Regions from separate parts of the Homo sapiens genome. Here region 2 is linked to region 1. The links come from fine-mapping of genetic effects on plasma protein levels. Region 1 holds a variant in brackets. A gene starts in the other region. All regions are shown on their reverse strands.

The links. PIP is the chance, under the fine-mapping model, that this variant and not a neighbour inherited with it causes the effect. The UK Biobank Pharma Proteomics Project read protein levels with antibody pairs (Olink). The fine-mapping took linkage between variants from a reference panel, not from the people measured, so its PIPs are less certain.
Region 2: it holds the start of SPESP1, and the variant in region 1 is fine-mapped to the plasma level of the SPESP1 protein (UK Biobank, PIP above 0.99).

The regions. Positions count from the first base shown.
Region 1 is chr2:151,380,882-151,397,434 of GRCh38, reverse strand. It overlaps a transcript of TNFAIP6 not described here. Among named protein-coding and RNA genes, the nearest start is that of RIF1, 21 kb to the left of the region's middle. The variant A/G (reference allele first, on the strand shown) is at 8,743.
Region 2 is chr15:68,923,247-68,939,799 of GRCh38, reverse strand. It overlaps SPESP1 (sperm equatorial segment protein 1), which reads right to left and starts at 9,275. Exons shown (of 2, transcript NM_145658.4): 1 at 9,083-9,275. The coding sequence starts at 9,146. SPESP1-NOX5 (SPESP1-NOX5 readthrough) reads right to left here and starts at 9,275. Exons shown (of 17, transcript NR_033672.2): 1 at 9,083-9,275. RefSeq lists a silencer at 12,399-12,599.

The sequences.
Region 1 (16,553 bases):
ATACTAAAAATGTGCAGATAAAGAAATAAAAGAAGGAGAAGGAATGTCACAGCTAGGAAATCACCATTTTGCAACAATGACATTAGTAATAATTGATTCAGGCAATAATCAGTAGGTGTTAAAACCATTGAGTAAAAGTTTAATGAAGAGCAGTTTCAAAATATCCCTCCATGATATATTTTTTAAGAAGAAGAAACGGTAACTTCACAGTGGAGACACCTAATGAATATCACCAAAACTGGTAAAAGCTGATATCACTGAGATTCCCTGATATGATTCACTGAGGAAACAACATCACTTCTACCTTCATAACCTAAATCTATCCATGAAGAATCAGAAAAATTCATATTGAAGGATGTTCTGTAAACAGAAAACAAAAAAACAAGTCCAACACAAAAGTGGCCTGTACTCTTCAAATGACAATGTCATAAAAGACAAAAGACAAAGGAAAACAGAACTGTTTCAGAATAAAGAAGACTCAACAGTCATGATAACCAAATTCAATGCGTGATTATGGATTGGAAACAACACGTTTTGTTTAAAGGAGTCGTGAAATTTAAAAAAAGACTAAATTTTCTACATTTGATAATTGTGCTGTGGTTATGTAAGAAAATCAGAATAAGAACTCACAAACAGGAAAAGATTGTTCTGTGAGCCATAGAACCAAGTAGCAACCAGAATGAATTTTGTTTTGCTCTTTTTTTGGAGACAGAATCTCCCTCTGTTACCCAGGCTGGAGTTCAGTGGTGCAATCTCGGCTCACTGTAGCCTCCACCTCCTGGGCTCAAGAGATTCTCTCACCTCAGCCTCCCAAGTAGCTAGGACTATAGGCATGCACCACTACGCCTGGCTAACTTTTGTATTTTTTTGGTAGAGATGGGGTTTCACCATGTTGACCAGGCTGATCTCAAACTCCTGACCTCAAGTGATCCACCTGCCTCGGCCTCCAAAGTTTTGGAATTACAGGCGTGAGCCACCAGGCCAGCTCAGAATGAGTTTTAAACTCGTTCATTTGATAAACACAACTCACCTCCGTGAACTACTTTTGCAAGCTAACCAATCAGCATCAGCCTCTCATGTCTGAAAGTCAACCAACCAGAGATGAACTCACTCCAAAAAAAGATGTCTGAGTACCAGCCAACCAACTATAGTAGCATCCGAGTAACCAAGCTTTTAAGGATCCTGCCATCCCATTTATACCTCTGAGAATCTACCCATCCCTGAACTCCATGCTTCCCCCAAACCCTATAGAGTCCAGCAGTCTGCCCTGCTCAGACTCTACCTGACCAGTATAGCTTTCCATTACTGTAGCATGCAAATCCAGCTTTGTCTTTTTGTTTAGATACTGAGTGGTGGTCTTCTAACTCCACCAGACCAGTCAGGCTCAACTTAGGTAACAAAGTTGTGAGTTCTTTTTCAGTTGCCAAAGACCTCCAGGTTGAAGGTCATGTAACCTGAACATGCACAGATGAACCAAGCCTACAACCACTGTCAGAACTTGCTTGCCTGAGGAGTGGGGACTGAATCAAGTGGACGCCACATGGCAGGATCCAGGATCCAATCAGATTGAGCCCTGGGGTCACCCCATAGCAGTATCCAGTTGGATCATGCCTCCCAGCATCACCTCATTGCAAGAGCCAATCAGATCACCCTTCATTACCCTATGCTTATAAAACCTGAGCCAGCCCTCAGCTTGAAGAGACAGACTTGAGCACTTCCTTCTGTTACCTTGCCAGTTGACTGGCACTAAAGCTTTTCTTTTCTCAAAAGCTGCTGCTGTGGTATTGCCTTCTAAGAGCACTGGGAAGTGAGCCCATTAATTGCTCGGTAGCAGTCTCATCCTTTAGTAATTCTGGAGGTTCCACCAAGATCATTTTGAAGACTCTTGGTTGGCAGTATTCCAGGCAATCTTCAGACCAACGGGTGCACTTACTGGGCTCCTTCTATCTAAGTTTCGTTGGTCTACCAGATCAGCTGCCATATGAAATCAGTATCAATAACCATTTGAGCTCTGTTTCCATTGAATCCCTATTACTGCATTTATTCTTCTATTCTAGGATTTATAACTAAGGAGATCCATTAGGACTAGGTGTTTGTACCAAGTAATTAGACAACTTTTGGTTCGGAGAAGCACCATTTACTAATCAGACCCAGGTATTTAATAAGGTAATTATTCCTTTTACTCTGGAGGTGTACCATTTGAAAATGTTTGCCATTAATCCACTTATTCTCCTGCTGCTTGCTTTTTTCTTTTTTTTTTTTTTTTTTCTGAGACAGAGTCTCGCTCTGTCACCCAGGCTGGAGTGCAGTGGCACAATATCAACTCATTGCAACCTCTGTCTCTCAAGTACAAGCGATTCTCCTACCTCAGCCTCCCGAGTATCTGGGTCTACAGGTATGCACCACCACGCCTGGCAAATTTTTGTATTTTTTGGCAGACATGGTTTCACCATGTTGACCAGGCTGTCTCGAACTCCTGACTTCAAGTGATCTGCCCGCCTCAGCTTCCCAAAGTTCTGGTATTACAGGCGTGAGCCACTGTGCCCAGCCTAAACTACTTTCTGTCTCTATAGATATGCCTATTCGGAACATTTTATGTAAATTGAATCATATAACATATGACCTTTTGTGACTGGCTTCTGGCACTTAGTATTTTGTTTTCTAGGTTTATCTACATTGCAGCATTATCGGTACTTCATTCTTTTTGATGGCTGAATAATATTCCATTGAATAGGTATACCCCATTTTGTTTATCCATTTATCAGTTGATGGATATTTGAAGTTGAATTAAAATCCTAGTCTAGAGCCAAATTAAGGACCATAATTAAGAAATTATAGTCTTCAGAGAAATAGCCAAAAATGTGCTATAGAATCCAGGTTTGTAAAAGATGAGTGTTGTTCTAAACTATAGACCTGTACGAAGTAAGTCAATTAATTGTAAGACCTACCAAAAAGAAAAATGTCTAAAAGCAGCAAATCATGAAGGAGATTTAAATAATGCAACTGTAAAATGTTTTAAATATAAAAATATACACTAAATAAAGCAGTTATAGAAGCCTTTATTTTAAGGATATAATAGACAAAGATTAAAGATTATAAATTAGATAAAAATAAAAAATAAACTTTGGGAAACTTTCAGTATTCTGGGTTAGATCTAGTATCTGAAGTAAAAGGGGACTTACCTTCTCTTTTTGTAAATGGGCTTAAACCTAATTTAGGGGATTTAATTTTTTTAATGAATTAAAAATATATAATTGCAAGCTTAGAAAAATATCAACTATATGGTCAACATTTTCAGACATCTTTAAAATATAAACAAACTGGAAATCAATACTTGTTACGGCACATTGTATTAAATAACCCATAGTGTCTCTGTTCTTTAAGATGTTGAAGCCTGTAGATAAGGACATTTGTAAATATCGTGAGCAGAAGGGCCATTAAAGAAACTAACGTGGCCGGGCATGGTGGCTCACGCCTGTAATCCCAGCACTTTGGGAGGCCAAGGTGGGCAGATCACGAGGTCAAGAGTTCAAGACCAGCCTGACCAACATAGTGAAACCCCGTCTTTACTAAAAATACAAAAAAAATTAGCTGGGCGTGGTGGCATGTGCCTGTCATCCCAGTTACTCAGGAGGCTGAGGCAGGAGAATCACTTGAACCTGGGAGGTGGAGGTTTCAGTGAGCCGAGATCGTGCCACTGTACTCCAGCCTGGTGACAGAGCAAGACTCCGTCTCAAAAGAAAAAAGAAAAAAAAAGAAACAATGTATCACACTGGGTAGCTAAAAAACAGGACAATTATCCAAAAATCCATCTAGTCATGTGGCTCCAAGGTAGACATGAGCACCCAACAATTCCGAGTCCTTTTTCTAATTCCCAAGGGAAATAAAACAACTTTTCTGCTTAAAAAAAAGTTTTTTTTTTCCTCTGAGAGAGTCTTGCTCTGTTGCCCCGGCTTGAGTGTGGTGGCCCATCTCAGTTCACTGCAACCTCCACCTCTCGGGTTCAAGTGATTTTCCTGCTTCAGCCTCCCAAGTAACTGGGATTACAGGCATGTGCCACCACGCTCAGCTAATTTTTGTATTTTTAGTAGAGACAGGGTTTTGCCATGTTGGCCAGGCTGCTCTGGAACTCCTGACCTCAGGTGATCTGCCCCTTCGGCCTCCCAAAGTGGCCGGGATTATAGCCGTGAACCACTGCTCCCAGCCAGAAAAAGAAAATTTCTATTAAAAATGACAGTGCCAGATTGCTTTACCAAAAAAAAGATAAGACAGATTTGAACATACATAGTAAATTGTGAAAGACTTAAGGAAAAATAAACATTATTTACCTTGGTTTAATAGAACCACCCAAGTAGTAAAAATCTAACAATTTAATGTCTCAACTATAACTGATATTTTGAGATCATTATCAGAAGAATATTCTTTATTCTCTGTGATAGAAATTGTGCAGAAAACAACATAGGACCCCTGAACTGCTATCCTCGGAATAGCCCAATTACACGATTGTCCCTTAGCTGGCATCTAGAAACTTAGATCTGGGGAGGGTTTTCAACATTTAACTGATAAGAGTGGCTCATTGTACCTAAAACTGTACAAACAATGTGTTTTTTTCTGAATACTTGCTTTTCTTTCTGAGAGTTTGGAATTTGTGTACATGCCAGGCAGGGGATGCCTACATGCTTACCCCCCAATAGAAGCTTTGGGCACAGTGTCTCTAGTGAGCTGTCCTGGTTGGCAACATTTCACATGTATTGACACAACTCATTGCTGTGGAGATTAAGCAAGTCCTATGTGAATTCACTGAGAGAAGCACCTTGGAAGTTTGTGCCTGGTTTCCCCTAGACTGTGCCCAGGTGACTTTTCCCTTTCCTGATTGTGCAATAGGTCAGTAAAGACATATATAGATATCATCTATATGCCTTAGCCATGAGTATAACTATATGCTGAGTCCTGTGAATCCTCCTAGTGAATCATCATACGTGGGAGTGGTTTTGAGGACCTCTAACCCAAACATCTGGACAGGCGCGGTGGCTCACGCCTGTAATCCCAGCACTTTGAGAGGCCAAGGAGGGCGGATCACCTGAGGTCAGGAATTCGAGACCAGCCTGGCCAACATAGTGAAATCCTGTCTCTACTAAAAAATATAAACATTGAAAAAAAATACTTATTACAACTTCAATCACTTTTACCTTCTACCTTGCATTTCTGGTTTTGTAAGAAACATCTCATATACTAGAGCAGTTTTTCCCTCTTCTGCCTACAATATGTGAATGAGCTGTTGATTCGACATAATTATCAAGTACGGTAGTCCCTCCCCTTCTCTGAGGGGATGTTTCAAGACCCCCAGTGGATGCCTGAAACTGCAAATGGTACAGAGCTCTGTATATACTATGTTTTTGTCCTGTACATACATACCTATGATAAAATTTATATTTAGGCACAGTGAGAGATTGATAGCAATAACTAATAATGTAATAGACCAATATACTCTAATAAAAGCTATGTAAATGTGGTCTCTCTCTCTCTCTCTCTGTGTCTCTCTCTTTTTCTCTCTCAAAATATTGTATTGTGCTATGGGCAGCAGAAACCATGGAAGGACTACTGTATTTCAATATATTAGTGATGTGGAAAGAGCTGCTTTCAAATGCAACTGGCCGCCTAGACCCAGCCTTCTGAGGTTTGCCAGTAACTGCTGCCTGTGTACCTTGCCAACATCTGATTCTCTGTAATATTTAAAAGGACTATGCTGTCTTACGTTTTCCAATTGCCTTTGGGGTAGGTGCTGTCTTCTACATCTTGAATAAACCCTTACAAAGGGGAAGCTTTGTGGGAATCTATTGGGAAATGTTTTGAGACATTGATTGGAGCCCTTGAGAGAGAATATTTAGCAGCATTGTCCAAGAACATTGTGGTCATTTTGGATTAAAAAGAAACATACCAAACAAAATTTAAGTTAGGAGAAAAGGCAATTTTCTAACAGACAATGTTTTCTTAGAACTGACATACCTTAGGCTTCTGTCCAAAGTGTACCATTTAATATTTTAAGCAAATCTTTATTACTCTAATTCAAATACGGATACTTTCCTCCATAAATGAGTGTGTAAGACATATTTGTAATTGCTGCAGTTAACATTAAATGTTTCTAGCCTTAAATAGCCTCCCTTTGATCAATTGTTTCCTTATATTCTTGAATTTACCATTCCTGAACAGTTCATTATTAATATAGCTACGACTTATAACAAATTTGTCCAGTAGACTCTGGCAACAGATGGCATTTTCATTTTAGAAAGTCCAAATACTCTGCCTACATTATTTCAGATGGTACGTTTGTGGAATAAAGTATTGAAATATGCCATATAGTCCTCTAAGAATACAGCTTTAGAATAGGAAACAAATTTTTCCAAATACTCAATGATATGTAACATAGTACGGTATCTACTATGATAATTTTTGGACATAGATATTGTGCCTGTATGTATTCTGTTTCATGCCTCTCCACTTCAAATCCTCCCTTCATTGCCTGCCCTGTGAAAATGGAGGTGAGCCCTTTAAAATTTACTCTTTACCAGCCTGCACACTCTGTTAAGCTTTGTCAATAGAGGGTGATGGCTGGGGATGCGGTGGCTCACGCCTGTAATCCCAACACTTTGGGAGGCCGAGGCGGGTGGATCACTTGAGGTCAGGAGTTCAAGACCAGCCTGGCCAACATGGTGAAACCCCGCCTCTACTAAAAATACAAAAATTAGGTGGCAAATGCTTGTAGTCCCAGCTACTCAGGTGGCTAAGGCAGGAGAATTGCTTGAACCCGGGAGGTGGAGGTTGTAGTAAGCCAACATTGTGCCACTGCACTCCAGCCTGGGCAACAGAGTGAGACTCTGTCTCAAAAAAAAAAAAAAAAAAAAAAAAAAAAAAAGAGGCTGCTGGAGAGATGGGGAAGGGACTTTCCTTCCTAGTTTCAGGGTTCCTGCTTAGCAAGTTCCTGCAGTGTATGTGGTTCATGTGGCTCCTTCAGCACCTAGCTCCTGCAGTGTCACGGGGTCAGGAGCACCCAGCAGCCAGCAGCTTCCCCTGGCACCTGCCTCAGATACTTTTGTAATGGAGGGTCTTCCCTAAGACACCTCTCTTTGAACAGCATTCCCCAGAAGCGTGCTTTCCAGCGAGTTCCACCAGTGCTGTACCACAGCAACTTCTCTCCATCTAGTGAGCTAGAGTCACCCTCTCCAGCAAGTTCTGGATCTCAGTCCTGGGGGCTGGAGGCTCCTCCTTGAGTGCTCTTTCTCATAGCTGCTCTGTATATCTGCTTATATCTCCTTATGTGTTTACTTTTCACTAGCCAATCTCTCATTACTCCATTCCAACGTAACAGTACTAGCATAGTAATTATTTTTCTAAAAAATATATATATTTTTTTGAGACGGAGTCTTGCTCTGTCACCCAGGCTGGAGTGCAGTGGCGGGATCTCAGCTCACTACAACCTCCGCCTCCTGGGTTCAAGCGATTTATCTGCCACAGCCTCCTGAGTAGCTGGGACTACAGGCATGAGCCACTGTGCCCGGCTAATTTTTTTTTGTATTTTTAGTAGAGATGGGGTTTCACCATATTGGCCAGGCTGGTCTCGAACTCCTAACCTTGTGATCTGCCCACTTCAGCCTCCCAAAGTGCTGGGATTATAGGCTTGAGCCACCACGCCCAGCCAAAAATAATGCTTTATATTAAATGTTTCCCTGTTCAAATTTCCATGTGGATTCTGTCTCCTGATTGGACCATACTGATACAGATATGAAACATGTATACTCTATCACCCAACTCTTGGCAGATAATAAGAATGTTTATCCTGAGCCAGACAAGGTGGGAAGGTGGCACCGCCTATAGTCCTAGCTACTTAGGAGGCTCAGGTAGGGGGATCCCTTCAGCCCAGGAGTTTGAGGCCAACCTATGCAACATAGTGAGACCCTATCTCTTAAAAAAAAAATTAAAAGAAGAGGCAGGGCATGGTGGCTCATGCCTGTAATCCCAGCACTTTGGGAGGCTGAGGCAGGTGGATCACCTGAGGTTAGGAGTTCAAGACGGGCCTGGCCAACATGGTGACACCCCGTCTCAACTAACAAAACAAAAAATTAGCCAGCCGTCGTGGCAGGTGCCTGTAATCCCAGCTACTTGGGAGACTGAGGCAGGAAAATTGCTTGAACCTGGGAGGTAGAGGTTGCAGTGAGCTGAGATCGTGCCACTACACTCCAGCCTGGGGAAACAACAACAACAACAACAACAACAACAACAAAAACCCTGTCTCCATAAATAAATAAATAAATAAAATATGTAGTATGTAGTATGCTAAGTAGTTGATCAGTTCTAGGGATTTTTTTAAAAAGTAGGAAAGAGGATATAAAATTTTAGGGAAAAGGTGGTTGAAATAAAGGGCCAGGAAGACTTTACTAAGAATATGGCTTTTGAGTAAAGAGCTGAAGGCAACAAGGGAGTGAGTCATGTGGCTATCTGGGAAGAGTACTCCAGGCAGAGGGAACAGCAGGGATCAAGGCCCAGAGTTGAGAGTGTGCTAATACGGCACAGTACAAACACCAGTGTGTCTGGGGTGGAGATAATGGTGGGAGGTGGGACGAGGGGTGACGGGAGATGAGATGACAGAGGTAAGAGGGGGCCAGATCATGATGGGCCTTCTAGGTTACAGGATGGGCCTCCTAGGTCACACTGACTTTCTTCTGAGTGAGACGAGAGGCTGTCACC[A/G]TTACAGAGAAATAATATACTGTTATTATAAATGCTCTTGTTTGTGCTTGAAAAATACTAAAAACTAAAATACTTGGTGTTTTAGAAGGGAAAAATAAAAATAATTCTATTAAGATTATTTTGTAAGTGATCCCCATTCACTTTCGCAGGGATAGAATTTCAGAAGGCAATGTGAAAATGAGCTGTGTACTGAATTATACACGTATATTTATTTTAAATGAACATATTGACTCAATTAAAGCTAATACCACGAAACTTTGCCTTTGGCATCATGAGACTCACTGTGAGGTTATTAAAACTTAGACAAAATTTAAAAAGTAAAAATAAAAAACTTAGGTACGTAGTGATCTTATTTATAATTGACCGTAAAGTAAATGCTCAAAAATGATGATTTGTATTTTACAAACACTGTTAAGGATTTGGCTCTTCCAGTGGAATCCCAAGAGCCTGTGTCTTTAGGGAGTTTACTTTTCTGCACTTACGCTTTGTGGGATCTGATTTCTTCTAGTGGTTTGCTTTGTTGGGCATTTGTTTAGAAGGAAACAAAATAGCTATGGATATATGCTTTAGAAATCTAAAAAACAACACGAGACATGAAAACAACTTGCTTTCACAATAACAGAGGAAGAAAAAAGTTTTTTTGAGGAGGAAGAGTTGAAAAACAAATTCCTGAAAAACTTCCTTTTAAAAAATATTCAGTCCAAAACCTGAACTCAAATGTTATATTAAACAAAATACTGAATATATACATATACCAACATCGGTACATTTGTTTTATTTTCAGAGAATGATTTTAATATAAAGAACATATTAAATTAAAAGTAAGCATTACTTAAAAAAAAAAACCACCTCCAAACCCACACATAAGCACAGCAAAGAAAAGAGTAATAGAGAAAAGTCTACAAATAAATCTGAGCTGATATTAAATTAAAAACATTCAAATAAAGTAGAATTACTAGACACCAAGAATAATAAAGCAGACATGCAAGAGGATGCTAAGTTGAATAAAGAAAATTAAGTTTTAGACCAGGCGCAGTGGCTCATACCTGTAATCCTACCACTTTGGGAGGCCAAACCGGGTGGATCACTTGAGCGTAGGAGTTCAAGACCAGCCAGGGCAACATGGCGAAACCCCATCTCTACCAAAAAATACAAAAATTAGCCAGGTGTGGTGGCCGTGCCTATAAGTCCCAGCTACTTGGGGGCCTGAGACAGAAGGATTGCTTGAGCCCAGGAGGTTGAAGCTGCAGTGAGCTGTGACTGTGCCACTGCACTCCAGCCTGAGGGACAGAGCAAGACCTTGTCTCAACAAAAAAGAAAAAAAAATTAAGTTTTAAAAATATTTTTGGGCCAGGCGCAGTGGCTCATACCTGTAATCCCAGCACTTTGGGAGGCCAAGATGGGTGGATCACCTGAGGTCGGGAGTTTGAGACCACCCTGGCCAACATGGTGAAACCCCGTCTCTACTAAAAATACAAAAAATTAGCTGGGCGTGGTGGTGGGTGCCTGTAATCTCAGCTACTCGGGTGGCTTAGGCAGGAGAATCACTTGAACCTGGGAGGCGGGGGTTGTAGTGAGCCAAGATTGCACCACTGCACTCCAAACTGGGCGACAGAGTGGGACTCCATCTCAAAGAAAAAAAAATGTGAAGGTAAGAGCAATTTACTGAAAGAATCATCTATATATATTATAAGGATTTCTTTAAATCAGTTGTATAACCTATTTTTATAGGTCTTAGGATATATAATTATAATGTATCTTAAATCTTGCTAGTAAGGTTTATAAGTGATTCAGCCAAATCTGCAGAAGTCATTGTAACCTATCTCTAACCCTACGCCTACTACACTATTGAGATATGGGGGAACCTAGGTCAGCAGTAGTAGATGGTATTTAACATCATTTGAAATATTTCCACACATTTGTTTTTTATTTTTATTTTTGTTTTTTTGAGACGGAGTCTCGCTCTGTCACCCAGGCTGGAGTGCAGTGGCACGATCTCGGCTCACTGCAAGCTCTGCCTCCCGGGTTCACACCATTCTCCTGCCTCAGCCTCCCGAGTAGCTGGGACTACAGGCACCCGCCAGCACACCCGGCTAATTTTTTGTGTTTTTAGTAGAGACGGGGTTTCACCGTGTTAGCCAGGATGGTCTCGATCTCCTGACCTCGTGATCTGCCCGCCTCATCCTCCCAAAGTGCTGGGATTACAGGCGTGAGCCACCGCACATTTCCACACATTTGAATATTCTCGGGAAACCCTAAAGGACTTACATTTATCATCCATATCAATAATAAGAGTGGCTGGGCGTGGTGACAGAGTGAGACTCTGTCTCAAACAAATAATAATAATAAGAGTGCATTGTACTTTTTAAATTTGCACACATTCTTCAATTTTCTATAAATATTACTCCCAAAGAGAACCAAAAAAATGAGAATTCTGATAAAGAACAAAAAACCTATGGAGGTGAGGAAAACAAAGTAAAAAAAATCCATAATCAAGAAAGTGAAAAAGTATTAAATGTAGTAAGAAAACATATAAACAGAGAAATGTTATACAGGCCTTATTTAATATTCACCTTTAACATTAAGTTAATTTCTCCAAGTTTAAAAAAATAACAGTCTTCTGTTCATGGCTTCTTGTTTATGCTTTGTTATCTAGAATTATACTTTAATTCCTCAAAGTTTAAGTCTGCATGAAACTGATTATTAAGAGATGCATTACCTTTCTATCACTGCTGTAAAACATTACAACACACTTAGTGGCTTAAAACAACACTTATTTATTTATTTATTTATTTTTGAGATAGAGTCTTGCTCTATCGCCCAGGCTGGAGTGCAGTGGCACGATCTCAGCTCACTGCATCCTCTGCCTCCTGGGTTCAAATGATTCTCCTGCCTCAGCCTCCCAAGTAGCTGGGATTATAGGCATGCGCCACCATGCCCAGGTAATTTTTGTATTTTTAGTAGAGACAGGTTTTCACCATGTTGGCCAGACTGGTCTTGAACTCCTGACCTCAAGTGATCCACCCGCCTCTGCCTCCCAAATTGCTGGGATTACAGGCGTGAGCCACTGCGCCCGGCCACATTTATTATCTTACAGTTCTGTAGCTCAGAAGTCCAACGCGGGTCTCACTGGTCTAAAACCAAGGTGTTGTCAGGGCTGTGTTTCTTTCTGGAGGCTCAGGGGAGAATCTGTTCCTATACCGTTTCTAGTTCCCAGCTGCAACCCACGTTCTTTGGTTCATGGCTTCCTTCCTCCATATTCAAAGCTAGCAACATAGCATCACTGTGACCCTGCTTTGTTGTCACCTTTTTTTTCTCTGACTCTCTTTTTATGCTTCCTTCATCCACTTTTAAGGACCCTTGCAATTACATTGGACCTATGTGTATAATCCAGGATAAGCTCCCTATTTTAAGGCACTTAATTACATCTGCAAAATTGCTTTTGCCATGTAAGATAATATAGTCACAAGTTTCAAGGATTAGGACTTAGACATTTTAGAAGGATGGAGGATTTCTGCCTACCACAAAAGGTTATGTTTAAAATCCCATTGTCTGACAACTACCTCCTATCTCTCCATTCATTCTCTCTTATACTCTGATTCTACAGTCTTTGAGCCTTTGTGGGAGCTTCACTTCATCAAGTCTACCACTTTTTCAGTGTGCCTTATTTACTGATGTCCTCTCTTCCCTTCTAATTAAACTACATTCTGGCCGGGCATGATGGCCCATGCCTGAAATCCCACCACTTTGGGAGGCCAAAGCAGGCGGATCACTTGAGGTCAGGAGATTGAGACCAGCCTGACCAACATGGTGAAAACCTGTCTCTACTAAAAATACAAAAAATTAGCTGGGCATGGTGGCGTGTGTCTGTAATTCCAGCTACTTAGGAGGCTGAGGCGGGAGAATCGCTTGAACCTGGGGGGCAGAGGTTGCAATGGGCCGAAATTGAGCCACTACATTCCAGTCTGGGTGATGGAGTGAGACGCTGTCTCAAAAAAATAAATACATAAATAAGTGAAATAAGAAATAAAAATCAAAAAAATCTGCATTCCATGGGTTTTTACAATCCCTCCTTTAAGCATGCACACTTCTTCCTCCCTTGCCCCTTTCTTGTTATACTCACACGGCAAAAACCCAGCAGCGGTTAACGCAATTCTCCCTCTAGCCTGTCTTTTTCTCGTGAAGCTGAACGTGGCTAGAAGAAAACACCCTTGCTGACCAGTCTCCCGTTAAATTCCATGACCATGAACTTCAGATGGGCCCTTTGTGCTGCCTGGTAATCACATGCTATTTCCTAGTTCATTCACTTTCCCACTTTCCTAGAAGACTCTTTCATGCCTTCTCTCTTCTCAACCTCTCACATCTACCTTTCCATCCTCACTGTTGGCTCATGACTTGACTCTTTCTTCACTGAGAAATGCAAAGCAAGAAGAAGTTCCTGCAGATTCCTACCATCTATCTTCCCCACCTGTCGACTTCTGTGGCCTCACACTCTGCCTTCCTCCTAAAGGGTCTGGGGGCAGAATCCACAGGGTCGTGATCTTGCATGTGGGATTGAAAGTTTATTTCCAATGACTTTTATCTGAAATCTAGCATGTCTTTCAACTATGAATGTAGTTAATAAATGTAGCATTAGCAGTACCTGTGCTTTTAGCCCCGAAAGACACTACAGATATATGAAACAGTTTTTGTAGAACTCATAAAATATTGTATACGTGTATTACCACTTTGAAATTATTATTATTATTATTTTTGAGACAGGGTCTCGCTCTGTCACTCAGGCTAGAGTACAGTGGCAGTGGCACTATCACAGCTCACTGCAGCCTTGACCTCCCAGGCTCAAATGATCCTCCCACCTTAGCCTCCCAAGTAGCTGGGACTATGGGCACATGCCACCACACCCAGCTAATTTTTTTAGAGACAGGGTTTCTCCATGTTGCCCGGGCTGGTCTCAAACTCTTGGGCTCAAGCCATGTGCCTACCTCGGCCTTCCAAAGTTATGAGATTACAGGTATGAGCCACGGTACTCAGTCTACTTTGAAATTATGGTAGTTACTCGACCCACTGCTAGATCTTATATACAGCATTAATAAACACATGCTTTAATGTATCACAGTTTTTTTTGTTTGTTTTTAGATATGGGGGTCTCACTATATTGCTTAGGCTGGAGTGCAGTAGGGCTATTCACAGGCATAATCATAGCTCACTGCAACCTCAAACTCCTGGGCTCAAGCCACCCTCCTGCCCCAGCCTCCTGAGTAGCTGGAACTATAGGCATGTGCCACCACACCTGGCTTTGATTTTTTTTTTTTTCAATGATTTGATAACTGTGTTTTAATATAATTAGTTTTCTTTGTATTCCTTTATATTTTATGCATTTGAAAACATTATTCTGACCATCCAGAAATTTCACCCATCAAAGAATTTATGGTATATATAAAGGCTAAGAGTCCCTCCTGCAGGTGAATTATCCATGTCCCTCTCTAAATCCAGTCCCTCTATTTGTGCACTAGATACTATCTCCTCTCACTGTGCTAAGTGTCCTCCTTTTGCCCTTCTGGATCTGTTCTCCACCTTCTCCTTGCACTGGGCCCTGGAGCTGATCTCTGTGCAGTATCAACCAGATCTCGTTGCATTCTGACTTCTGTTGGGATGAGACAATGGGAGGTACAAGTAGTACAGAGAAGGGTGGAGGAGGGAGACTTTGGGGTATTTATCCTCAATCCCTCCCCATGGCCTTAGGTGGGCAGAAGCTCTTTTCCGGCTTTGGTTGGGCAACCCTTTCCTGTGGCTAAAGCTCCCTGTCTTGATTTCATATAACTGCCCCTGATTTTGCTCCTTCATGGCCCTCCTGCTTTGTGAGCACCCTGTGATTCACCATTCCTTCTCTTAAGTCAGCCCATTCCTCTATTATAATCTCTCCAGGCTCCCTCTTTGGAGAGTGTCATATGATTTTTGCCAGGGGCCTCACAACTGCATGGGCTCAAAGAAATGGCCCCAGCAGCTCTCCCAGCTGAGTTCATTCATTCTCATCAAGAAAGTCTCCTTTCAGCCCACTTGTCCTTACAGCTACCACTTCCTTGTTAGCCAGACCCACTGTCTCCAATACCTCTCCTTTCTCCTCTAGTTCACTTTTCACACACTTCAGTTGGGCCTTTGCCTCCTCCCCACTGAAACTGCCCATCCAGGTCACTGATGATCTCACAGTGTCAGTAGTTTATAATGCAGCACCCTAACCTATGTTTAATATGTAGTCTATTTATTATGTATATTAATTATTATCTCTCTCCCTCCACCAGAACATAAGCTCCTCAAACGTGGGGATTTTTGTTCCTTTGGTTCTCTGGTATTCCCTAAGTGCCTAGAACAGTGCTTGGCACATGCTTTTTTTTTTTTTTTTTAGCGAAGTCTCACTCTTACCCCCAGGTTTGAGTGCAATGGCTCAATCTCAGCTCACTGCAACCTCCGCCTCCCGGGTTCAAACGATTCTCCTGCCTCTGCCTCCCAAGTAGCTGGGATTAAGTCGCTTGCCACCATGCCCGGCTAATTTTTGTATATTTTAGTAGAGACGGGGTTTCACCATTTTGGCCAGGCTGGTCTTGAACTCCTGACCTCAGGTGATCTGCCTGCCTTGGCCTCCCAAAGCGCTGGGATTACAGGTGTGAGCCACTGTGCCCGGCCGGCACGTGCATTTTTGTTTAATTTAATTAGATGGTAATCATTGCTTGTTTAGGGATGGAAAGGCGTGATACCTTTCCTTACCATCATAAGGCCAACACTCCTATAACAAAGGCAGGCTAACAAAAGAAAAGCATTATAAATTTATTTAATCAAAATTTTATGTGACATGGGAGCCTACAGAAATGAAGACTCAAAGACCCAAGGAAAATTGTATTTTTATGTTTAGGTTTGATGAAGAATAGACGGCCATGTAGAAATGTGATTGGACAAATCATGTGATCTCATGGCAATAGACCAAGTGGGGAGGCCCAGTAAGGCCTGTCTGTCTAGATTCTTCTTGGCCTCTCTGTGTAACACTCCTTCCTTCTGGGTGTGGGGCAGGACTCTTCTGGAATGAGGGTCTGCAAGGGAGAAGGAGGACAGAGAGACCTTTCTAGGTTTTATAGCGTGCTTTTTGGGAGAGGAGTCTGTAACTAGACTTGAGGAAGAGGAATTTTGGTTCTGGTTGCTTTTTTTTTTTTTTAAAGACAGGATCTCACTCTGTCTCCCAGACTGGAATGCAGTGATGCAATCATAGCTCCAGTGCAGCCTCAAACTCCTGGGCTCAAGTGATCCTCCCGCCTCTGCCCCCCAAGTAGCTGGGACTACAGACATGTGGCACTATGCCCAGATAATTTTTAATTTTTTAATTTAAAATTTTTTTCATAGAGATGAGGTCTTGCTATGTTGCCCAGCCTGGTTTTGAACTCCTGAGCTCAAGAGATCCTCTGCCTCGGCCTTCCAAAGTGATGGGATTACAGGAGTGAGCCACTGCGCCCGGTGAATTCTGGTTTTTATGACTTGCTTTGGAAGAGGAAGACTTGGGGCAAGAGGGAAGATGGAAGGAGAAGGTCACAGAGATCTTGCTTCTGAGGCCTTCCAGTCTCCTTTAGCTCAAAGTACTCAGTATCCCAAAGTGTCATACTTTAGGGTATCGTCTGAGTCCCAACATCCCTCATTACCGAGTAACAACTGTGTTTTTTTCTCCCTAAAAAGGTGAAGTGACAAAACAAAAATAAAATATAGATGAATACATGTCATATCTTATAATGGGAATTTTTATTCTCTTAAATAAAAGTTATAGGAGGTCA
Region 2 (16,553 bases), not on the chromosome of region 1:
ACTACTAGCTGATTCCTTAACAAACTGAAATATTTATTATCCCCTTCTATTGTTACTCAGGCAACACCCAAAAGCCTGTTCTTGGCTGCCTAGCAACAGAGTGCACTACCTCCTACCTCGATTTTCCTCTGTTCTTCATGTACCCTTGGCTCCATATTTTTCTATTGTTAATTCCATCCTCTCTCCACACACCTTCTACCTCCTGCTTTTGTCCCCTAAAACATCTCCCTATTTCATGTTGACCTTCTCAGTTCTACTAATCAGGTCTGCTCTTGCAAATCAATTTGATCTTTATAAAAATGTTTGTAGGTCAAGGTAGTAAAAGATAGTGGAGCCTCAACTGTCCCTACAGATGGCTGTGGCCACTGTGAAAACCTGTTTTTCTCCATTCTTCAGGAGGTGCTAGAAAGCTGAACAAAATTCAAATTCTTACAAGGAACAGACAATCTTGCTAGAAGTTGTGTTATTATACTTGGATATTCATAGTCTACACTGGTATACTTTATAATATCCCATCTATTTTTACCAGTAAGTGATTAAAGCAAACATGGCAATGTCCTAGAACATGGCTCTGGCCCAGGTAAGAATCTTCAGCTTGGGAAACCATGATGCTGCTCTCCAGTTCCTCTTATAAGCAGGATGGCTAACTGCTAAGCAGGCTTGAGATTTTGCTGGAATCTCAGATATGGGGCCTGAAGGTGAGCCTGAGGTTGCCTGCACTTCTCTTCTTGAAATAGTACAGGAAGAACTGTCACACAACAGAAATGGTAAGAAAGTAAACAAAATGGTACTAAATAACTGTAGGAACAAAAGTGGTAGGAAATCCAAAGGGGAAATGGAAGATAATGATTTAAAAGATCCTAATAGCTTCCACTGATTGAATGATCACTATGTGCCAGGCACTATACCCAGAGCTTTGACTGTGAGAAGTACTTTGTCAAAGAAGAAAAGGAAGAGACTTAGAAAGGATAAGCAATTTGCTTAAGATTATATTCAACTTATAAGTAAGGATGAGATTTGAACACAGGCTGCCTTACTTCAAAGCAGGTGCTTGTAACAACCACACAATGTTGTCATAAAGAAATGACACAAGGATGCTGGCAAAGCTGTATTAGTGTTGTGATAAAATTATTCTGCAGGGATACTACTCTGTTTTAAAATACATGTGAACATTAAATAAAATCAAATAAATAAATATAGTATCCGAAATTGTGCTGTCAACTGGACCAAAATATTTTAAACTACATGTAAATATTAAAATTAAATTAAATTAAATATGACCAAATTTTGTTCTATCATCAAATGGACCAAAATGCATCCCTTTCGCATATTAAGATGTATCTAGTAATATTGAAAATAATCCAAATACAGTATTTTCTTACTACAAAGTACAAGTAACTGACAATCAATGACTTACAAAAAAATACATCCCGTTCACACAGAAATAAAAGGCAAGTTAATTACTTTTGAGTTTATTATGAGGAAAATAATAAAATCATGATTTAAAATGAGCAATGAAATATAAAATTTCAGGCTGCGCTTGGTGGCCCACGCCTGTAATCTCAGCACTTTGGGTGGGTCAACTAAGGTCAGGAGTTCGAGACCAGCCTGGCCAACATGGTGAAATCTCATCTCTACTAAAAATACAAAAATTAACTGGGCATGGTGACATGCACCTGTAGTCCCAGCTACTCTCGAGGCTGAGGCAGGAGAATCGCTTGAACCCAGGAGGCAGAGGTTGCAGTAAGCCAAGGTTGTGCCATTGCACTCCAGCCTGGGGGACAAGAGTGAAACTCCATTTCAAAAAAATAAAATAAAATAATAGATAAATAAATAAAATTTAAAACTTCACTCAATAAATAATACATGTGAAATATATTTCCTTTTCATAGAATGACCAATTAAAGGAGGAAGAGAATAACATAAAAGCCAATTTGCATGAAAACTTGCTAAAATTCATTGTTCATAAAAGATATGCAAATTAAAAACAATTTTTGTTTTGCCAGTCAAGTAGGCAAATATTTTTAAATGATAAAACCTAGGACTGGCATGTGTATATGTTACTTCCTTAGTAAAATAAGTTCCCTCCTACCCAGAGAGGAGAACAATAAAACCCATTTCCCATATCCCCTATACCCCAGCCCCTGGAGAACACACACCACCGCCTGTTGGTGGGTGGGGGGTGAGGGGAGGGAACTTAAAGGATGGGCCAATAGATGCAGCAAACCACCATGGCACACGTATGCCTATGTAAGAAACTGCACGTTCTACACATGGATCCTGTTTTTTTTTTAGAAGAAATAAAGAAAAAAAATAATAAGTTCCATCCTTACTCCCCTTTTGATCCCTAGATCCTTCTTTAGTCTCTCTCTAGCATACTGATCTTTTCTTTATAGAATTTAGACAGTTCTAACTGTATTTGTTAGTTTAATATTTGTTAACTGTTACACTTAGTAAGCTCTTTGAGAGCTGTGACACATCTAATTTGTTCATTATATACTCTGTTTTACCCAGTGCCTAGAACCATACTAGACAGTCAAAAAGTATGAATAACTGAATGAATGAACAGAATGCTGGAAGGTATGTAAATTAATTGCACTTCTAGTAATTTATCTTACTAAGATAATCACAGGTAAAACATTTCTACAGAAGAATACAGAGGAAGAAAACTAGACTTCATGTTATGTTTAAAAATAAATCTGTTAGTCTAAAAACTATTGTGTGGGGAGCAGTTTCTGGCTAATTGTCCAATAATTATTACAGAGAAAATTTTAAATGAGTAATAAGAATGTTCTTTTATTTTAGGCAAAGTAAGCAGTTTTTTATAATAAAAGACACAGCTTACTACGTCTTTCTAAATTTCTAAGTGTGAAGTTTATATAAAATAACATCATAAACATCATGGTGAAATAGCTCCATTTCTCAGAGAGCCCCCATACTTCTTGTAACTGCCCCTTACTAAATAGCCTAATGTAAGTTTAGATCACATAAACTTATGTTCTACTAATTACCTTTCATTGAATTTTATCAATCTCTAAAGTAATACTGCATTGACATAATTTTAATGTAAGTAAATCACAATCTTAATATTAAAATACCTCCATAATTTACCTTTTATTTATCTTAAAGTATGAAATTCAATGGTTTTCAGTATGTCCAGAGTGGTGCAATCACCACCACAATCTAAGTTTAAAACAGTTTTGTCATCCCACAGTAAAATCCATTTCCCATATCCCTTATCCCCCAGACCCTGGACAACCACTAATCTACTTTCTGTAGCTACGCATTTGCCTATGCTAGACATTTCATATAAATGGACTCATACGATATGTGTCCTTTTGTGAGTGGCTTCTTATACTTAGCGTAATGTCTTCAAGATCATCTATGTTGTAGCATGTATCGGTACTTCATTGATTTTTATGGCCAAATAATATTTCATTGTGTAGATACACATACATTTCTACTTTGCCCTTGGCCAGTAGCCTTGATATGGCAACTGCTGATTGCACCCAAAATTTAATCACCAATTATGGATGCTCATTTTGTTAAAGATTTGAATATAACTAGGATTTTTATTACAATGATAGTGAAAACAAAATGGCTTTATCCATAAAGAACTCATGTATATAAAACTTAAACATATACCCAAGCATCCATCACTTATAGATGGTCCACACACTCTGGCTGAATGTCCATAACTTTGGAGAACAAATTGCTTGTATTTTCTATACATACCATGAAGTGGACTCATAAAGAATAAACTTCCCTTATTCTACAGCAGTTAAGTACTAAAGTAAGAATTAATAACTGAAAGCTGTAATAATGCAAGAACTACCAGTTAAAATATCCAACACCTTCAAATTAAAATGAACTTTTATGAAGGTTAAAATTTTAAAACGAACTGAGCTGGAGTACTGTATTTCCAACTCAAAGTAGTAATAATTGTGCTTAATTACTGAGGTGTACTCAAGGAATGGTCATAAAAGGAAATATTAAATCTTCTTATTCATCCAGCAATTTTCTTATAATTTATTATTACACAAATCTTAATTTTTGCTGACAGGTAAATAAACAAGTAATTATGTTCATATTAATCAAGTGTTCCAGTTAAAGAAATGTAACTTTATGGCTTTACACTTCCTGCTATTCATGTTCTTGGGTAGTGTCTTCTGACATTGGATATGGGCTTGCCCCATGTGACTTGTCTTGGCCTATAGGACATTAGCAAGTCTGATACAGTGTAGGCTTCGTAAGAGCATCCATGTTGGGGCTTATAAATCTCCTTCTTGGAAGCAAGCTGCCATGGTGTAAAGAAACTTGGGCTAGAGTACTGAAAGATGAGAAGTCATGTAAAGACCCTGGAGGATGAGAGGCCATCTGGGATGTTCCTATCCATTTGAACTTCCAGCTGAATGCAGCTGCATGAGTGACCTCAGCTATACCATATGAAGCAGAGCTGCCCAGCTGAGTCTAGTGAACCCATAGAATCATGAAAAATGATAAATTTGGGGAGCAGTCATTTTTGCCACAATACACAACCAAAATAGCCTTATTAAATTATGTTACAATTCTAGTGCGGATAAAGAGTTAAAAATCAAGATGCATCCTATGAGTAATGTTATAATTGAAACCAAAATAAACTCATTATTTTAAATCTTTCTCTTCTAGTTCTGTTCACTAAAATGACAAAAATAACAATATTTCCCCACTGCAGTAGTCTAGTATGTATCGCAGGCACTTTGGTCTCTCATACCATGTTCTCCATCCCCTTGGAAAGACAGTTAATTCCATTCAGAGTGAGAAAGATAGAGTGGGAAAGACACAAAGTGGGCTTGGAACAATCAGTTAACATCAGAAAACAAGAAGTCTTTAAAAATATATGGGATCCTATCAAAAGAACAAGAGAAGACAGCTTACAATGGCTCCAAATGGTCAAGGTATGAATATTTGAGGCTCGGAAAAAACTATACTTAGGTTAAATAAATTGTGTGTTTTTAAAATGCTTCAAATATATAGTGATACTAAAAAAAAAAGAAAATATTTTCTTTTCAAATAACTAGTATTTTATTTGGAGATAAAAAATGTTGCTTAAGTTTAATTTCACATATATTATCAAGAGATTAAAGTATATCCATTTAAGGGATAATATGATCAACAGAACAGAAAGACAGGACTTTTTTCCCCCATAAAACATCAATGGACAGGCTAATGAAACTTCCTGCTACTCCCCCACAGAATACTCTCTTGACACTTGCCTATTGGATGACATGCTCCTCATTATCTCAAACATTAACAAAGTGTGTCATGACAGTTTATTCACAGGTTTGAGAGACCTTTTAAATGCTGTAGCCTTGGGCACTAGCTAAGTGAACTTGCAGCACCAGAACTCAGTGAACTTTACCTTTAGAATGTATTTGAAATAAAAGAATATTCTTTTCCTCTTAATTTATTTGGTGATAGATTCAAACAATTGTTGCTGGTTGCTGCCTTATTGTTTCCCTTACCTTCTGTGGTTCATTAGGACAAAATCCTTCCTAAACACAATGACAGAAGCCAAAGACTGATACATTGAGCCTTCTTATAATACCAATCTAGAAATAAGAGCTTTTGTAATCCTAGACTAACCCTATTTTTCCTAGTCTATACCAAGAGATGATCTAGAGGAAATAATTTATTTGGGAGATACCCCAAAATTAATATTTTAATTTTATTTATACTTATTATGCAAAGTTTGAATCATTTAAAAATTAACATATATTAATATTAAATTAATATTAACACACTTTAATTTTAATTAGTTTGCACTGCCAGCCCATGAATATTTGATGACTTAAAATTTAAAAAGGCCAATTATATAATTTTAATAGTAGTTGATATTATTTAAATATGTAACTATTATGTTAATATTACTTTAGAAGTTACTGTGCTTTTTTTTTTTTTTGAGACAAGGTCTCACTCTGTCAGCCAGGCTGGAATGCAGTGGCGCCATCTCAGCTCACTGCAACCTCTACCTCCTGGGCTCAGGTGATCCTCCCACCTCAGCCTCCCGAATAGCTGGGACTACAGGCCTGCCCCACCACATCTGGCTAATTTTTGTATTTTTTGTAAAGACGGGGTTTCGCCATGTTGCCCAGCCTGGTCTTGAATTTCTGGGCTCAGGTGATCTGCCCGCCTCAGCCTCCCAAAGTGCTGGGATTACAGGTGTAAGACACCGTGCCCGGCCTGTGCATTTTTTTTTTTTTAAAGCAAAAAGAATTCTCATTAAAAAGTAAAGTAAGTTGCACAGTGCAAATACATTAAAGAGGGAATACATTAAATACTTTCCCATTCAAAAATTTAAAAATGGCAAAGTATTTAAAACTATGGAAAAATCAGGTAGAGGAAACTGAATGTATAAAAATTTTATATAGTAAAACGTTGTTTCTCCAGCACCATCAGGATGTGTGTGTGTGTATGTAAAGGAGTGCCGACTTCTGTATACCCAAGCTGCATTTATGTCTAACTGAATTTAGATTAAACAAATACTAGCTAAGCTTGGATTGGGCCTGTTAGAAAGGTATAGGCAGATACAAGAAGTACTGAGGTTTTCAATAAATGCAATTACTTAATACACCCGTGATGTTTGCGTAATAACCTCAAAACTGTCTAGTAGTCTAGAAAAAATGTGTCAAAGCTGCACTTTTCATTATAAAAACCTATGTACCTTATCTTTTGCATCTCGCCAACAATTGTTTGAATAGTGGCCATATAAAAGAATGCATAGCTGATTTACATCAAGCTCAATGATATACGCATTTTGGTATACTTATTTTAAAAACAAAATTAAAATTAGAGAAAAAGTAGAGAGACAGATACAGAGAAAGCAGCCATGTACCACTGCCTGCTCTATATATTCCTTAATCCACTTCTGTAGAAGAAAGGTAATTACATATTCCAAGACATCTTCTATGATTACAACCTGTATATAGTTTCCTTATGTCTTATAACATCTATATATTCAACACAAAATCACTCCTTTTTTCTGGGAAGCGTCTTTTCATTTCCTACAACCCTTTTCTTTCTTCCCAAGAAAGATTAGGGAATAGGGTGCTAAGAAAGACAACAGGCTGGCTGGGCACAGTGGCTCAAGCCTGTAATCCCAGCACTTTGCAAGGCCGAGGCGGATGGATCATTTGAGGTCAGGAGCTCGAGACCAGCCTGGCCAACATGGTGAAACCCCGTCTCTACTAGAAATACAAAAATTAGCCAGGCGGTAGTGGCGTGCGCCTATAATCCCAGCTACTCAGGAGGCTGAGGTGGGAGAATCCCTCGAGCCTGGGAGGCAGAGGTTGCGGTGAGCCGAGATCGGGCCACTGCACTCTAGTCTGAGCTAGAGAGTGAGACCCTGTCTCAGGCAAAAAAAAAAGGGGGGGAAAAGGGAAGGGGAGGGGGAGGGGAAAATTATGGTGTTAGGCAAGAGACTGCACTGAGTTAAGTGGGTGTCCAGGGACTCCTACCTAGCAGTCCCAGAGTGTACTGTGTGACAGTGTTAAAGTCACTTCAGTTAAAGTCTCCATATATGTTAGTCACTTGTGACTTGCTGATCTACAACTACCAAAATGCAATAACTGGTGTTAGTAATAATGATCATCAGACATCAAGAAAAGATAGTAGCATCTTCATTATGTTCTGGTCCTCTATGTCAAGGAAGAAAAATTTTACAAAACTTTTTATTAAAAACAGCTACAAATCATAAATGCTAGTATTTAAAGAGCTAACTTTAGTTACCTAGAACTTCATCTAGAACTTTTCCCATTACTATTCATAATTTAGATTGTGTTGTATTTTCAGTTTTTAAATTTGATTTTTAACTAAGATCGTTTAGCAATTCTGAAAAATAGATTTGCATAATCAGCATGCACGATAGCGCTTTTTTTACACCTGTTAAATTGTATTTATTGATTTAAGTGAAACCAAACTCCAACATTACTAAATGCCACAATGAACTACAGTTAGACTAAATGGGGAAGCCTCACCTACCTGACTTAAATACTAAGTGCCTTAAGGTGCCCACATGATATTGTTAATATAGTAAAGTCTTAGCACCCCTGAATTTGACCTTATTGGTTTTCAGCTTTCGGGGAGGGACAAAAATTGCTCCTTGGCAGGTCTTAAGTTATAATCCTGCTTAACTAAGGCTTTGAATGCCGTGTGCGCAAGCATGCTCTCTGGGAGCGCATCCTCAGGTGAGTGTCCCAGACCGCGACCCACAATCCACATGCTCTCCAAATTTTACCGTACGGGTCAACCTTTTTTTCTGTACAGGGCCAGAGAGTAAATACTTCAGTCTTTGCAGACCAGACTGTGTGGCAACCACTTAACCCCGTTGTTCTAACGTGGGAAAGCAGCCATGGGCAATACGTAAAGGAATGAGCGTGGTGGTGTGCCAGTAAAACTTTATTCACGAACAATGAAATGTGAGCGTCATGCTTTTCCACAAGTCATGAAAGAGTACATTTCATATTTACTTTGAAAATGCAAAAATAGAACATCACACACCAGGGCCTGCCGTGGGGTGGGGGGAGGGGGGAGGGATAGCATTAGGAGATATACCTAATGTAAATGACAAGTTATGGGTGCAGCACACCAATATGGCACATGGATACATATGTAACAAACCTGCACGCTGTGCACATGTACCCTAGAACTTAAAGTATAATAATTAAAAAAAAAGGAAGAAAATGTAAAAATCATTCCTAGCTGGCCAGCAGCTGTCACACGACCCCTGCACGGTCACACGCCCAATGGCTGGGGAAGGATCGGGTGGGCAGAGGAAGGCCTCCGGTGAGGTGAGGGGGTTCCACCCGCGCCCACGGCCCGCAGGCGCTTCCCGTCTCATCTGGGCCGCGCCGCCTCAGTTGCTGCGTTCCCTGACCAGGAGAGGAGAGGGACACCCCTCGGCGTCGAGGCCAGGACCCCGGACAGTGGGGGAGGGAGGCATGTAGGACCAGGGAGAAGGAAGGGCCAGGCTTCGAGGTCGCGGAGCTCGGGAAGTTCCCCCAGGGTGTCCCCGGTCCGCTGCCTCCTCAGGCCCGTCACTCACTCGGATAAGCCGGCACAGACGAAGGCCATAGCAAAAGCGCAACTAGAAGGACTAAGGGCTTCATAGGCGTCGTCCGTAGCACTCTGCCATGCGACCGGAACGTCCTGGGGCCACCAGGCTGGGAACCTCAAGGCCGAAAGGGAAGGTGTCAGCGGAGTACCGTCCTGCCTCAGGCCCTGGGACACCCAGCAACGGTTGTCCCCAGCGCGCAAGCGCAGCGGCATGGGGGAGGGGAGAGCGAGCGGCCAAGGCCCGCCCCTCCTGGGACCGCGTGCAGGGGGCGGGGGATCGCGCGCGCCCCGCCCCGCCCCTTCCTAGTGCGCATGCTCGCTCCGCCTTCGTAGGTCCGCGCCTGGTGTGGGCTGGGAACGCCTCGACGCCCGGCTACTGCGTGCGGGGTGCTGCCTCGGGGCGTGCGGGGCTCGGCCCATCCTGCGCGGTAGGGATACCGCCGTGGTTTAAACGCGGTCCCTGTGAGGAAGGAACTGTAATGGGAGAGGCAGATAACCTGGCAATTACCACAGCGTGAAAGGGGGCTGTAGTGGGGGAAGCGCTAGGTACTGTTGTGCACAGTGGAAACCCACCCCCGGAAGCGGGTGGGGAGCTTGGCTAAGTGGAGGACAGCTTGGAGCACCCCAAGAACTGAGCATAGTTCCGGCGAGTTGCATTGTGGGGCTTGGGAGGGCAGTTGTTGGAGGACAGGGAGGAGAGGTAGGCAAGGGCATTAAAAACGCCCTAAGGGGCTTGGGTGTTTTTGTTTTTCAAAAGATCACATTCCATTTCTTTGACCTTCTTAAAAAGATAGGGGTAGGGATGAGGGAGAGTACGACTATGAAAGGATAGCATGAGGTTGTTTTGGGGACTAATAGATGGCAGTGGCCACAAGAATCTATACATGTGTTAAAATTCACAGAAGGCCGGGCACGGTGGCTCACTCCTGTAATCCCAGCACTTTGGGAGGCCGAGGTGGGCGGACCACCTGAGGTCAGGAGTTCGAGACCAGCCTGACCAACATAGTGAAACTTCGTGGCTACTAAAAATACAAAATTAGCCAGGCGTGGGTGGTGGCACACGCCTGTAGTCCCAGCTACTTGGGAGACTGAGGCAGGAGAATCACTTGAACCCGGGAAGCAGAGGTTGCAGTGAGCCGAGATCGTGCCACTGCACTCCAGCCTGGGCGACAGAGCAAGACTCCACCTCAAAAAAATAAATAAAAATAAAAATTCGCAGAACTGCACATCCCAAAGAATCTGTTTTTCTGTATGGTTATTTTTAAAAATTCACGTACACTCATCTCTGCCTCAGGAAGCAAGGGGCTTGGATTTTAGTCTGAGGCACCAGTACTAGAGTACTGCTAGGTTTTGAGCTGGGAACGGTTGTGATTAGATTTGTATTCCAGAAAACTCACTCTTCCTGTAGCATGAAGAATGGACTGGAGGGAAGCAAGACTAGAGGCGCCGGCGGAAACTGAGACTGCGCACGGCGCTTGCGGGCCAGCCCGAGTTCCGGGTGGGCGTGGGCTCGGCGGGCTCGGTGGGCCCGGCACTCAGCGCGGCCGGCCGTCCCCGCTGGCCACGGGCAGTTGGGGGGAGCTTAGCACCTGGGCCAGGAGCTGCTGTGCTCGATTTCTCGCCAGGCCTTAGCTGCCTCCCCGCAGGGCAGGGCTCGGGACCTGCAGCCTGCCATGCCTGAGCCTCCCTGAGGAGCGCCGCTCCCTGCTCCACGGCGCCCAGTCCCATCGACCGCCCAAGGGCTGAGGAGTGCGGGCGCAGGGCCGGGGACTGGCAGGCAGCTCCACCTGCGCCTGGGTGTGGGATCCACTGGGTGAAGCCAGCTGGGCTCCTGAGTCTGGTGGGGACTTGGAGAACCTTTATGTCTAGCTAAGGGATTGTGAATGCACCAATGGGCACTCTGTGTCTAGCTCAAGGTTTGTAAATGCACCAATCAGCACCCCGTGTCTAGCTAATCTAGTGGGGACTTGGAGAACTTTTGTGTCTAGCTCAGGGATTGTAAATGCACCAATCAGCACCCTGTCAAAACGGACCAATCAGCTCTCTGTAAAGTGAACCAATCAGCAGGATGTGGGTGGGGCCAGATAAGGGAATAAAAGCAGGCTGCCCGAGCCAGCAGTAGTAACCCTATGGAGTCTCTTTCTGTCGTGTGGAAGGTTTGTTCTTTCGCTTTTTGCAATAACTCTTGCTGCTGTTTACTCTGGGCCCACACTGCCTTTATAAGCTGTAACACTCGCTGCGAAGGTCTGCCGCTTCACTCCTGAAGCCAGTGAGACCACGAACCCACCGGGATGAATGAACAACTCAGATGGGCCACCATAAGAGCTGTAACACTCACCATGAGGGTCTACAGCTTCACTCCTGGTCCAGCTAGACCACGAATCCACCAGAAGGAAGAAACTCCAAACACATCCGAACATCAGAAGGAACAAATTCCGGACATGCTGCCTTTAAGAACTGTGACACTCACCACGAGGATCCACGGCTTCATTCTTTAAGTTAGACCAAGAACCCACCAATTCCGGACACATGTTGAGGAACCAATGTCTCCAGCCAACAGCCAGTAAGGACCTGAGGCCTGACAACAATCAGGTGAGTGAACTTGGTAATAGATTCTCCCCAGGTGAGCCTGGAGTTGACCACAGCCCGGCTGACATCTTGATTGTAGCTGCCTGAGAAACCCAGAGATGGAGGCACCCAGCTAAGCCACGCTTAGATTCCTGACTCACAGAAACTGTAAGACAGTAAGTGCTTGTTAAATGGAGGAGGAGAAAGCATTTGCGTAAGCAATAGCTACATACAAGGGTCTCTGTTGATTTGTTCCTTGAAAGAGACCATGCTTGGAAAGGCACCTGCAGTTGGGTACACTACTTAATTGAGTTAATAATTGTCAGTCATTCTTCCAGGTCCATCTGTTTTCATTACCAGTCAAGCTGGAAGGCAGGTATAAATTAAGATAATTGATTCAGATATTTTAGGGTGACACTATAGCTAGTCAACAAGGGATTGTTATAACTTGTGCATTACTATTTTGATTGGGGGTTGGAGAGTGTAATAAAGCTCTGTGGATTCTTCATAGTCTTTTCTATCTTGCTCACCCTTGTTCTAAAGGTTAGGAAACCAATGTGAAGATTCTGCCTTATGTCCTTTAAATGTACACTCAGGAATTGGGGAAAAAACACTGGAAGGGTTTAGGGTTCCATCGAACTTACTGTAAGGTGGACTTGGGTTAAAATTCCTTTAATTACTTCACCCCTGTAAACCCCACTCTAACCAGTGAACTACTGTGGCATACTGCGATTTTCCTTTTTTTTCAGTGCATATTTATCCCTAGATGATCACTGGTCCCTTTGGAGAAGGCTAGGAGTTAAGAATCACAGCACATACTTATCTCATTGTATTACTACTGAATTCGTCAAGGGTTTCCTGCTTTCCCTTCACTTAGGAGACTGGATTTGTGAAACACACTGCAGTTTGGGGATTGAATGAGGAACTGCAAGTGAGAGGTTCAAGTAGGATGTCTTTTAGGCCCAGAGTTGGAGTCGTTTTTCCCTTGTTTGGTTATAAAAACCCCAATAAGACTTTAGCAGTTTTCATCTTGTTAACCATTAAAAAGGAAACGGTGAAATAGCCAAGGTATATCCTAATTGTGGAATTCCAGTTTAAAAAAAAAAATGTTGTAGCTCTGTACTCCATGGTCTATGTGCTAACATATAAAATTCTCTAAAATATGGTGTTGAGTAAAAAAGTTCAGAAAAACACATATATCCACTTATGCAAAATTACACCAGTTACATATTTCCATGAATTCATCTGAAATCATTCTGGAAGGAAACACAGTAAGCTGATAATAGTGCTTACTTCCAGAAAGAGAAATGAGATTGGAGGAGAACAGGGGATTTTGAAGGGAGAATTTTGCTTTTTACTTTTTCTTATCCCTTGAATTTTTTGAAGCAAGATTACTCATGTAATTAAAAATAGAAACAGTAACTTTTTACAAAATCTAGTGAAGAAAGGAGGGCTAGTGGTAGAAATGTCTTATTATGCCTCATGTTTTCCTTTACTGACTTCACTGAAATATTTTTGAAGTGGCTAATTCACTACCCAGAGAAAAGTAGCCTGCATTTCTGCTTCACCTCTGGATTCTGTAGACTGTTTTGATAGGTAATCAAACAGTATCATTTACTGTTATGACTTTTTTTCAGGGATGTATTTTATCTCCCCTTTATAGTTGTTTTTATGCTGTCTATTTTACACAACACCTTGCTGGTGCTCAATAAAGACTTAATAAATAGCAACACATGCTCTTCCAACCTAAAGGAAAAGAATCCTTCCCCACTTTCCCCCACCCTCTTCCCCTAGAGCTGTCAAAATTCTGTTTCAAGGCTCAAATGCCACATCTGCTGGGAATCTCCCCTCCATCATCCCTCCAGTTAGAATGTATCATATCTTCCCTATCCCATATTTTCATAATGCTGTATTGTAGCCATTATTTCACCATAAATTCTGTATTTTATGTTTTTACAAGCCAGGCTTCTCTAGACCAAGGTCTTTGAGGGAAGGAATCTGATCTGAGTTATCCCTGCATCACAACCTCCTAAAACCCAGCCAAAGTAGTGTGCATTCATCAGGTGCTCAATAAATGCATATTTGAGTTCAATTGAAATCAAAAGACTGGGAATTTTTATAGAATCTTAAAAAGATCGCTGGGAATCTTGTAGAATTTTTACAGACCCTTAAAAAGAGCTAACAATACTAACCCAGCTACAGTGACAACTTCCAGCACAATCTTCAATCTCCAGAAGAAACTCCTCATCTCGAAGTGTCTTAACTCTATTATTTAAGTCCAGGTGAAACGAATAACAGGTGGTCTCATCTGTTCTTCTCTCTGTATATCATGCAAGTAATTCTAGACAATAAATTCCTGATTGTGAAACCACTATGTCAAAATAAATGTACCAGTTTGCATATCCATCAATAGTATAGTAACTAATACTGAGTGGCATCATCTTTGAAGACCAGTCACGTCAAGTGCCATATCTTGTTTTAACCTGTTTGACTTTGTTTTTCAGTGTAGCAAAGTGTTCTGCCTACTCTCCCTGTTCCCACCTTGGATTTTCCCTGTATTCCTTCTAGTATACATCTAACCCCACACTTACTGTTTTTTATTCTTTCTCCTGTTAACCCAAGTGATGAGTTAATAGGCTATGGGTTAGCCAGAGCTATATTTGTCTCCCTAGAAGAAGTATATTTGGGAAGTCCCTCCCCTCTTATCTTAGGTCACTTCCTTAATCCTTTCTTACCCCGCCCACCCCACCCCCCTCCCCGCCCCGTCCCGCCCCGCCCCATTCTCCTGGGACCAATGCACTGAGCAGCTAGGACCACAGCTCTAGCTTAATTAACACCAATGCAGTTTTTTACATCTCAGATCTCAAACATCATGTCTTAACAGCTCTTGGCCCCATGTGTGGAAAAATAGTTGAAATTAAATACTATTAAATGAATGAATACCCCAATCCCTCCATGCATTTATCCATCCATCCAACTATTCATACATCCACTCTGCCCTTGTAAAAATCACTGTAACATTATCAGCATGAGAGCACCGGCAGCTTTGTCAGAGAAGGACTTCAGCCACCCGGGGGCAGTAGAGCCTCACCAGTGGCTGGGATGGCACTTGTGGTTACATCAGAGCATCTCTCCAGCTGTGACTCTAGAAACTGAATTTTGATTTTGCTGCAGTAGATCATGTTTTGCTATTGTGTGTTTTGCTTTACTCTCATGCACTTGGAACGTACCAAATAGCATGTAATAATGTTTAAGTGATTTAATAGTAATAGCCTTTGTTTTCCAAAGAAGATTTTCTTCAGTGCCGGCTACGTAGAAGAATGTTACATCCAGTCTTTTCTCTGACAAAGCTAGTCCACATGCAGTTACATTATAGATAGTCCTTGGCTGAAATCAATTCATGAAATGAGACCTGGGAGCACACAGAAGAAGCAGGCTGACCCTTGGGAATGCCCACTGTCTGCACGATCTGCCCCACCTGATGTAGGCAATATACACTTTTTAAATTTTTTAAAAATTGTATTTTTTTAACTTTTATTTTATATTCGGGGGCACATGTGCAGGTTTGTTACATAGGTAAACTCGTGTCATGGGAGTTTGTTGTATACATTATTTTATCACCCAGATACTAAGCCTGACATCTGGGCCCTGAATAGGCTCTGTGGGATGTTTTTGATTAATAAATGGATGGCAGAGGAATCCTGGAGTGTAGATGGTGATCGCTGGGAAGGGGTTACAAGTGTGTGAACCTCACAGGATTTTTAGCTCTGTCCAGGAAAACCCTCTTTCCTGTTGACTCTACCAAAGTCAGTGTGCATCCCTGTGAAAGTCTGAAAGTATAGCTGGGGACTTACAGAGATGCTAGGACAATGATTTATTGTCCTGTGGACTCATCCAACTAGGAGGGTCCTGGAATTCTAAAGGAATACTCAATACAAATTTAATTTGTATTCACTTAGCTTTTGTAAAATTATGTCCTCACTAAATAGAAAGATTCTTAAGGCAGAGACCATGTCTTTTTGTGTTTGTACCCCAGGGACTTTTCACAGTGCCTGGCAGAGTTTGGACACTACGTATGTGCTGAATAATATGTGAAATTTTCTGATGGGTGCCACGAAGTCAAATAGAAGATGACTTTGGGTAAGGAGAACCTTAATCTCTGAATCTCATTGTGCTTATCCCTAAAATAAGAACCCTTTGTATTTGAATTATGCTTAAGTCTAAACCTTACATATAGATCAAATATATTTCCTTTTACACTCACAAGCATACTGGGAGGGTAGGCTAAACAAGTGCTGTATGAGCATCCCAGTTCCACAGGTGAGAAAACTGGGACTCAGACTAAAAGACCTAGCCAGGTCACTCAGCCACATCCTGATGAGCTGAGACTACAAGACCCAGGTCTTTTGACTCTCAGTACAGCACACTTTGACTATACCTTTGTGGATTACAGGGGATAATTGGACTAGTCAGTCTCTTGGAGACTTTCTTCTAGCTTCAGAAATGGTTCTCAGGCCACACTGAGAATTAGTTCAGAAACTTTTTAAACATAACCAATAATCAAGACTGTGTGGTATTGGCAGAGGAGTAGACACATGTATCAATGGAACAGAATAGAAAAATCCAGAAATAGACTACACAAATATGTCCAAGTGATTTTTCACAAAATGCAAATGCAATTAAATAAAGGAAGGATTGCCTTTTCAATAAATGGTACTGGAGCAATTGGATGTGCACAGGTAAAAACATGAACATCAACCTAAATTTCACACTTTATATAAAAATTAACTCAAAATGGATCACAGGTATAAATCCATAAAACTTTAAGAGAAAAATAGGAGAAAATTGTTATCAGCCAGGTCCAGGTCTGTTCTGCCCATGCACAGTAAGTC